Homo sapiens: one gene and its partner. The protein of the gene in region 2 purifies or fractionates together with the protein of the main gene of each other region. This does not show direct contact. Each region holds a gene or a part of one and is shown on either strand. Other genes may lie near its edges.

The links. Proteins that work in one complex are often made in the same cells at the same time.
Region 1: the proteins of FLT4 (region 2) and SFXN4 purify together in Homo sapiens (affinity purification with mass spectrometry; one large-scale study listed by BioGRID and IntAct). This does not show direct contact.

Annotation. Positions count from the first base shown.
Region 1 is NC_000010.11:119,159,215-119,162,860, forward strand, and holds part of SFXN4 (sideroflexin-4), read right to left. Parts: intron 3,201-3,646; coding exon 3,126-3,200; intron 1,868-3,125; coding exon 1,841-1,867; exon of another isoform or gene 1,756-1,840; coding exon 1,701-1,755; intron 540-1,700; coding exon 514-539; intron 1-513. UniProt on the Homo sapiens protein: Mitochondrial amino-acid transporter. Does not act as a serine transporter: not able to mediate transport of serine into mitochondria.
Region 2 is NC_000005.10:180,622,013-180,625,658, forward strand, and holds part of FLT4 (vascular endothelial growth factor receptor 3 isoform 1 precursor), read right to left. Parts: intron 2,050-3,646; coding exon 1,923-2,049; intron 828-1,922; coding exon 719-827; intron 1-718. UniProt on the Homo sapiens protein: Tyrosine-protein kinase that acts as a cell-surface receptor for VEGFC and VEGFD, and plays an essential role in adult lymphangiogenesis and in the development of the vascular network and the cardiovascular system during embryonic development.

The DNA.
Region 1 (3,646 bases), on a different chromosome or scaffold from region 2:
GGTTGCAGCGAGCTGAGATTGCGCCAGTGCACTCCAGCCTGGGCAACAGAGCCAGACTCTGTCTCGAAAAACAAAAAAAACCCAAAAAACCAAAAAGCACCTCCCAAGGGCCAAGGTGAGAAAAGCCTCACAGGGACAATGCCAGGTCCCAGGTGAGGGGCTGTGTCAGAGGAGGACTTGGTGGCCAGGGGTTTGTGCAGGGAGCTCATCCTAACTCACTGGCCGCTTCTACCGTGCTCTGCGCATACTTGGTGTTCAGAAAAGGGATGACCTTGCCAAGCTGTGGGCCTTCCAGAGGCCCGGATGCCTGACTGGGAGGGTGTGGGGAGGGGGAGGGAGTGGGGACAAGGACGTATGAACAGCAGCCATGGGTTATCAGTGGGGATCCACAACCATCTATCAGGCAGTCATGTGACAGGGGTCCGGAGCTGGAGGGACACAGCTGAGGTTAGGAGGAGAGTGGCCATCTTCCCAAGCCCCTAGTCTCCTAACGGCAAATGTCTGCTTGCTCACCGTGGGTGCCATGAAAGGCAGGAACGCTGGCAGGAAGAGAAGAGAGGAGGTGTCAGTGATCACAGTTGCCCAGGCAGAGGGGGCCAGAAGGGGACTACCCACCTGAACACCTCTTCCCCAGCTTCCAGAAGGCACAGACCTCAAAGGACTTTTTCCACTCATTCTTTGTTTTTCTAATAAAGTGGGGGGTCAAGGTCTCAGCACTTTGGTAGGCTGAGGCTGGAGGATGGGTTGAGGCCAGGAGTTCGAGACCAGCCTCTATTTTGTAGAGGTAGCGAGACCCCCACCTCCATAAAAAATTTAAAGCCAGGTGTGGCGGCATGACCCTGTAGTCCCAGCTACTCAGGAGGCTGAGGTAGAAGGATCAGCTGAGCCTGGGAGTTGGAGGCTGCTTTGAGCTATTATGGTGCTACTGTACTCCAGCCTGGGTAACAGAGCGAGACCCTGTCTCTAAAAATGACAATAATAATAAAGTATGTACATAAAATTACTATAACATGGCCAGGCACAGTGGCTCACGCCTGTAATTCCAGCACTTTGGGAGGCCAAGTGGGCGGATCAGAAGGTCAGGAGTTCGAGACCAGCCTGGCCAACATAGTGAAACCCTGTCTCTACTAAAAATACACAAAGGAAAAAAATTAGCTGGGCATGGTGGCAGGCACCTGTAATCCCAGCTACTCAGGAGGCTGAGGCAGGAGAAATCACTTGAACCTGGGAGGCGGAGGTTGTAGTGAGCCGAGATTGTGCCACTGAACTCCAGCCTAGGTGACAGAGCAAGACACTGTTTCAAAAAAAAAAAAAAAGAAAGAAATCCTGCTGGGGGAGAAATAATTAAAGCAAGGCAGGCAGAGTTTTCTTTTCTTTTTTTTTTTTTTTTTGGACACGGAGTTTCACTCTTGTTGCCCAGGCTGGAGCGCAATGGCATGATCTCAGCTCACTGCAACCTCCGGCTCCCGGGTTCAAGTTCAAGCAATTCTCCTGCCTCAGCCTCCTGAGTAACTGGGACTACAGGCACGTGCCACCACAATGCCCAACTAATTTTTTACATTTTTAGTAGAGACGGGGTTTCACCATGTTGGCCAGGCTGGTCTCGAACTCCTGACCCCAGGTGATCCGGCAGGCAGAGTTTTCTAAGTGTTAGAAACTACATCTTCCCAACCCACTTCTGAAAATTAGAACCAACTCACCTGCAGGTCGAAAAAGCTTGGGGATCAGGTTGCTGCTGTCGGGATGCACTGTTGCCTTCAAAAGGAGAGATGCAAGGTTAGCTGGATGTCTGGTTTTGTTATTATAGGACACTAAAAATTAGGAAGGGGCTGAAACTTACAAGACTCCGCTTCCAAGCTTCTTGTATCTTAAAGGAGAAAAAAGAATAGCTTTGTTTCATTTTAAATTTTTTTTAAGAGACAAGGTCTTGCTCTGTCACCCAGGGCTGGGGTATAGTGGCACAATCATCACTCACTGCAGAACAGCCTCGAACTACTGGGTTCAAACGATCCTCCCACCTCACCCTCCTGAATAGCTGAAACTACAGGCTCACGCCACCATTCCCAACTAGTTGTTTAATTTTTAGTAGAGATGGGGTCTTGCTATACGGCCCAGGCTGGTCTTGCAGTCTTGGCATCAAGTCATCCTCCCAAACCATTGGAATTACAGGGTTAAGCCATCACACCCAGCCTTAAAAAAACAACAACAACAACAAAAAAAAACAAAAAAAAAAAAAAAGCTTTTAAAGGTGGCTCAACAGCAAAGAATTTCTTTGCCTGTCTCATTTCTGGGACCACATTTGTTCTACCTTTCAGAGAGTGAAGGCCAGAGCTGTTATTTACCACATTGACAGAACAAATCAAAATAAATGGATCATATGAATAAACAAATGAACTAATGACAAGCAAAGAGACGAGCCACACAGAGAAATGGACCAGAACATTAAAAAGTCCTGTCTCTACCCTTGGAGAATACCAACACCTAACTTATCCCTCAGATGAGTCCCCGAATCCGGCTTGCCTCTGGCTCAGAGCAGAGCAGGCTGTGTGCTGATGACACACCATGCCATCAGTCAAGTTACTTGCAACAGAGCCAAGCTGTCAGCCCAGGGTCCCCAGCACATTCTTAGAAAAAGTTAAATATGTGAGCTCTCCATAGGCTGTCTTGAGGAGCTGGTGTTTGTGAGCTCCAGAAAGCCCCACATACTGCAAGGTAGATAAGGAACAGTCCGTTTGAGCCTATCGGCAGGAACGCTGCCTGCAGTGGAGAATGAATTCTGACGTCAGAGCCCTGTCTGAATTCTGGGGTTTGCCACTGGGCTCCAGGAATCAGCTGCAGGGAATCCCCACAAATATCCACTGTGTAGGAGGAAACTTGCTGTCTGGTTTATGGGACAGAATTCTAACTACATTTAAAAAACTAACCCAGTTTTGCAAAGCTGGTCCTCTGGGCAGTATATAACAATGACAGCATTAATAGCCAATAGAACAGTGGCTCCCAAGGGAAGGAAAAAAGAAAGAAAAGAGACGGAGACAGAGATTAATGGCCAAATTCCACCTGACTTCAGACCATGCAGGCAGAACCATCTGAGGGCAACCAGCCAGACCTGAGCACGTGAAACATACCCTTTGGTCCGCCGAGGCAGGGCTGGAAACATCTTCATTTGTGCACAATAGTTGCCTCGAGTTTTCTATACTTTCCTAAAATCAGATATCAAGTAATCAAGTAATGATCTCAACATTGTTCAGGTTTATCCCCAGAGGTAGGAATCACCAGCTCACTCACCAGCATGCACTGGACTTCGACTGCATGCCTGATTTCAAGCCACATGGTGCCCTAGGCTCTCTATCCATTAGGATAGCCCTGAGTGCCATTCAGATTTATGCCTTCCTCTTCCTAGATGCTCCAGCAGCTGCCCCCAATGGTGCTGTCACCTCCCCCACTCTCTGATGTCAACTGTCGCACTGAATGGTTACCACCATCCCCTGGCTATACATGTCAGAAACCTAGAAGTCCTTCTCCCTCACCCACTTCCATGTCTTATCAGTTCAGTCTTATTTCCTCTCTTTTTCTTTCTTTCTTTTCTTATTGTTTTTTAAGAGACAGGGTCTCACTCTGTTGCCCAGGCTGGAGTGCAGTGGTGTGA
Region 2 (3,646 bases):
GGGCCCCAGCTGGACTGCTTGCCCCCCGCCCCACCAAAAGCCCAGGTCATCAGGAGTTCCTTGTCACCCTCAGTGGGACTTGAGTCCTCATTCTCTCTTGAAGCTTGCCATGCCCCACCCCATGCTCAGCCTGAAATAACGTGTTCCCTGGCTTTTCCCAGTGCCGTGCGCCCACTTCCTCTTGTCTCTCTGGTCACTTCTGGTCAGGCTCCTGTGGCCCCCCAGCCCCCGGGTGTTCTTTTGGGCTCCATCTCTCTGCTGGTGCCCTGATCTACATCTCTCTGCTGGTGCCCTGATCTACATTCTGGGACCCAGTGACGTCTGCTCCTGGGCTCCGCTCTCCTGAGGTCACTACCACATTTGAAAATCTGAGTAAACCACAGAGCTTCTCCCCAGAGCAAAATTCACACGAGTCACAAGGTCTCAGGGCTTGGGAAGGGGAGGGTGGGAGTGGGTATAGCTAGGAGGAGCTGCAGTGAGCCAAGGGCATCCTTGAGGGAGGAGCCCCAGGGTTGGGGACAGAGGATGCCATTCCATCCCAGTGCGCCAGCACCCAGGCCCTATGCTGGTGACCCTTAAATCTATTTTTCCTGTCTACAACCGGTAGGCCTTGGATCTCTCTCCTGGGTGTCCCAAAGACCCCAGAAACTCAATGAGCCCAAACCTGCCCCCTCCTGACCCTGTACCCAGGCCTCCCCGCCCTGGTCTGGTCACTCACTGGTCACATAGAAGTAGATGAGCCGCTCATCCTGGCCCACCTTGTTGGAGACCACACACTTGTACATGGCAGACACGTTGGCATTCTGGATCACCAGCTTGCTCACAGTCTGGGAGAGCACAGGCACAAGGATCCATTTCCTGCCCAAGTTCTCCCAACCTGGGCCCTGTCTTTCTGCAAGGAGGTCGCTGTGCACCACCCCCCCCAATCATGGGGGAAACTGAGGCTTTGGGCTGGAGAAGACCAAAACTCACAGGACCAGGGATAGTGAGGCAGAGGAGAGAAGGCCCCTGGGCAGCAGAGAGAGGTAGCTGCCCAGAAAAGTCAAGGGACAGTGTATGGACTGCTGGCCTAGGCTGCAGTGACGTCAGAGGGCAGCCTTTGGCAGGACCAGAGAGACCTCTGGCCGTGGCTATGTTGAGGGGGCACCAGCGTCAGTGCAAGCCAGGGTGAGAATTCAGCCTGGGTCACAGCAAAAGCCAGTCACTTCTGGATGGGGTCAGGCCCAATCCAGTCGCTGCTTGCTGAGATCCTCGTGAGATGGCCTCCTCAGCCCAGAACTGTCCTCAGCAGCAATCCCGAGGCCCAGGGTTATTGAGAGGGGTGGGGATGGCTCCCAGAAGGACTGAGGCCTCAGGGAGTAGGAAGCCTGAGACACAGGGGAGGAGAGAGGGCCACAGGCCCTGCCTACCATCCAAAGACCCCCACCCCCACCCCACCCCCAGCTGGGCACTTCCTGTCCAGGACTGGAACAGGAAGAGGCTCTGGAGGTGTGTAGGAAAACAGGAAGTGACTGGAGGAAGTAGGTGCCTTTGTTCAGTACCCCCTTCTCGGCGTTGCCCCCAGGCTGCGCCAGCGGCTCAGCAGCCCTCTGTGCAGACCTGGTCAGCCTCCAGCCCTGTCCCCTCCTGGTCCTGGGGCCTGTGGGCCTCAGGGGCTCATGGCCTGGCCAGGTGGCCTTGCATGTCAGCTTCCTTGTCTGGGAAGCCGCCAGAGGTCCGCCCTCCATCACAAAGCCGGAGACTGGCCCTCTGACCTTTCTGCAGGCAGGGTGGCCGAGGCCTACAGACTGCAGGAAGGTCACCCGCTCTCGGCTGCTCTGCCCAGCACTCTGGAAGCCAGGTGGAAACCACATGGCAGTAATGGCCTCTCTCTCCTCCCTTCTCCTTCTCCCTGGGCACTCAGCAGCGCGGCTGGCCTGTACCTTATTCTTTCCCTCCACAAACTCGGTCCAGGTGTCCAGGCTCTCGATGGGGTTCACGGCATCCTGCGTGGTCACCGCCCTCCAGTCACGGCACTGTGGCATGAGGTCTTGCTGCTGCCGCCGCCGGCTGCCAGGACCAGAAGAGGCAAGGGCAGGTCAGGGATACAGGCAGGAAGGGCCCACATGGGGGGCGGGGTCAAGCCCTTGTCATATCCAGTCACCTTCTCATATGGGGTCGTGGGCGAGGCTGGCCCTCGGGCCTGGGTGAGGGAGATGGGAAGGGGACTTTGGTGTTTTTTTTTTTTTTTTGAGACGGAGTTTCACTCTTGTTGCCCAGGCTGGACTGCAATGGCACAATCTCAGCTCACCGAAACCTCCGCCTCCTGGGTTCAAGCGATTCTCCTGCCTCAGCCTCCCAAGTAGCTGGGATTATAGGCATGTGCCACCACGCCTGGCTATTTTTTTTGTATTTTCAGTAGAGTCGGGGTTTCTCCATGTTGGTCAGCTGGTCTCGAACTCCTGACCTCAGGTGATTGGTCTGCCTTGGCCTCCCAAAGCGCTGGGATTACAGGCGTGAGCCACCGAGCCCGGCCTGTTTCTGGAGCTCTGTCTCCCACCCTTCAGGCTCAGGACCCGGCAACCCATCCTACACAGGCTGCCAACACCAGCTTCCTGTGCCCACTGTCCCTCAGGCACATGTGCACTCTGTCCCGCTTCTCTGTGCCCCTTCCTGCAGAGGCCACCTGGGATCTGCCCACATGGCTGCAGGCCCAGCACAGTCCCATGCTGCCCCCGGAGGCATCTCTGCCCAGCCTCTCCCTCTCTCCTGCTTTAGGAGCTGCGGCCTCCCTCTGGGCAGGGTGTGCATCCCCAGCAAGCTTGGCCTCCTGCCAGGATTGGGGGGGTAGTCTCAGGGCCCCAAGGGAGGCTCATATCTGCCCCTGTGGAGGAGCCGAGCAGGGACCCCCCGAAGGGCTCCATCACTTGGCACAGAGCATACAGGTGGCACACCCAGAAGGAAGGACATTTGGAGGTGCTGGCAGTGAGCTGCATGCCGCACGATCTAGAAGAATACCTATGAACCTTGGACATCTGGGGCCGGCTCATGCCACCCCTACTGAGCCTCCCCCACTGACCACACCAGAGCCACAGCCAGTGGGGCTACCCTCATCTCCCATGTAGGTTCCCAGCTCCCATCCCGCCCCAGTTTGATACTAGGAATCTCTTGCTAAAAGGCAAACCTGAGCCATGTCTCCACTTCTCAACACCCTTCACTGGCTCCCTAGTGCCTTCAAGCCCTGCCCACCTGGGCGTCCTCCTCTCACCCCCTGCTTGTCTAAATGTCCTGCTGGCATCCCGCTCAGTGGAGGGGAGCACGGCTCAGCAGGTGGCTGGGTCCTGTTGCTTACAGCTGTGCCCCTGGGAAAGCCGCCTCCCTTCTCTGACCCTATTTCCCTGTCTCTAAGGGGATGTGAGTGGTGCACAGATGAGCTGAGGCCCATGAGCACACATGGTGTGCCGTGGGGCTCAGTGCAACCATCCCAGGGGCTCAGGTGACACCCCCCCAGGTCCCCACCCCGCTGGAGGTGTCCTGCTGGGTGCTCAGAGACATGTGCTTCCTTCTCCCTCCAGATGATGCAATTACGTGTCCAGAGGTCTTCGCTCTTGAGGGAGGTGGGCAGGGGCCAGACCCATCCTGTGTCCAGCTTGGCCAGCTGATGGAG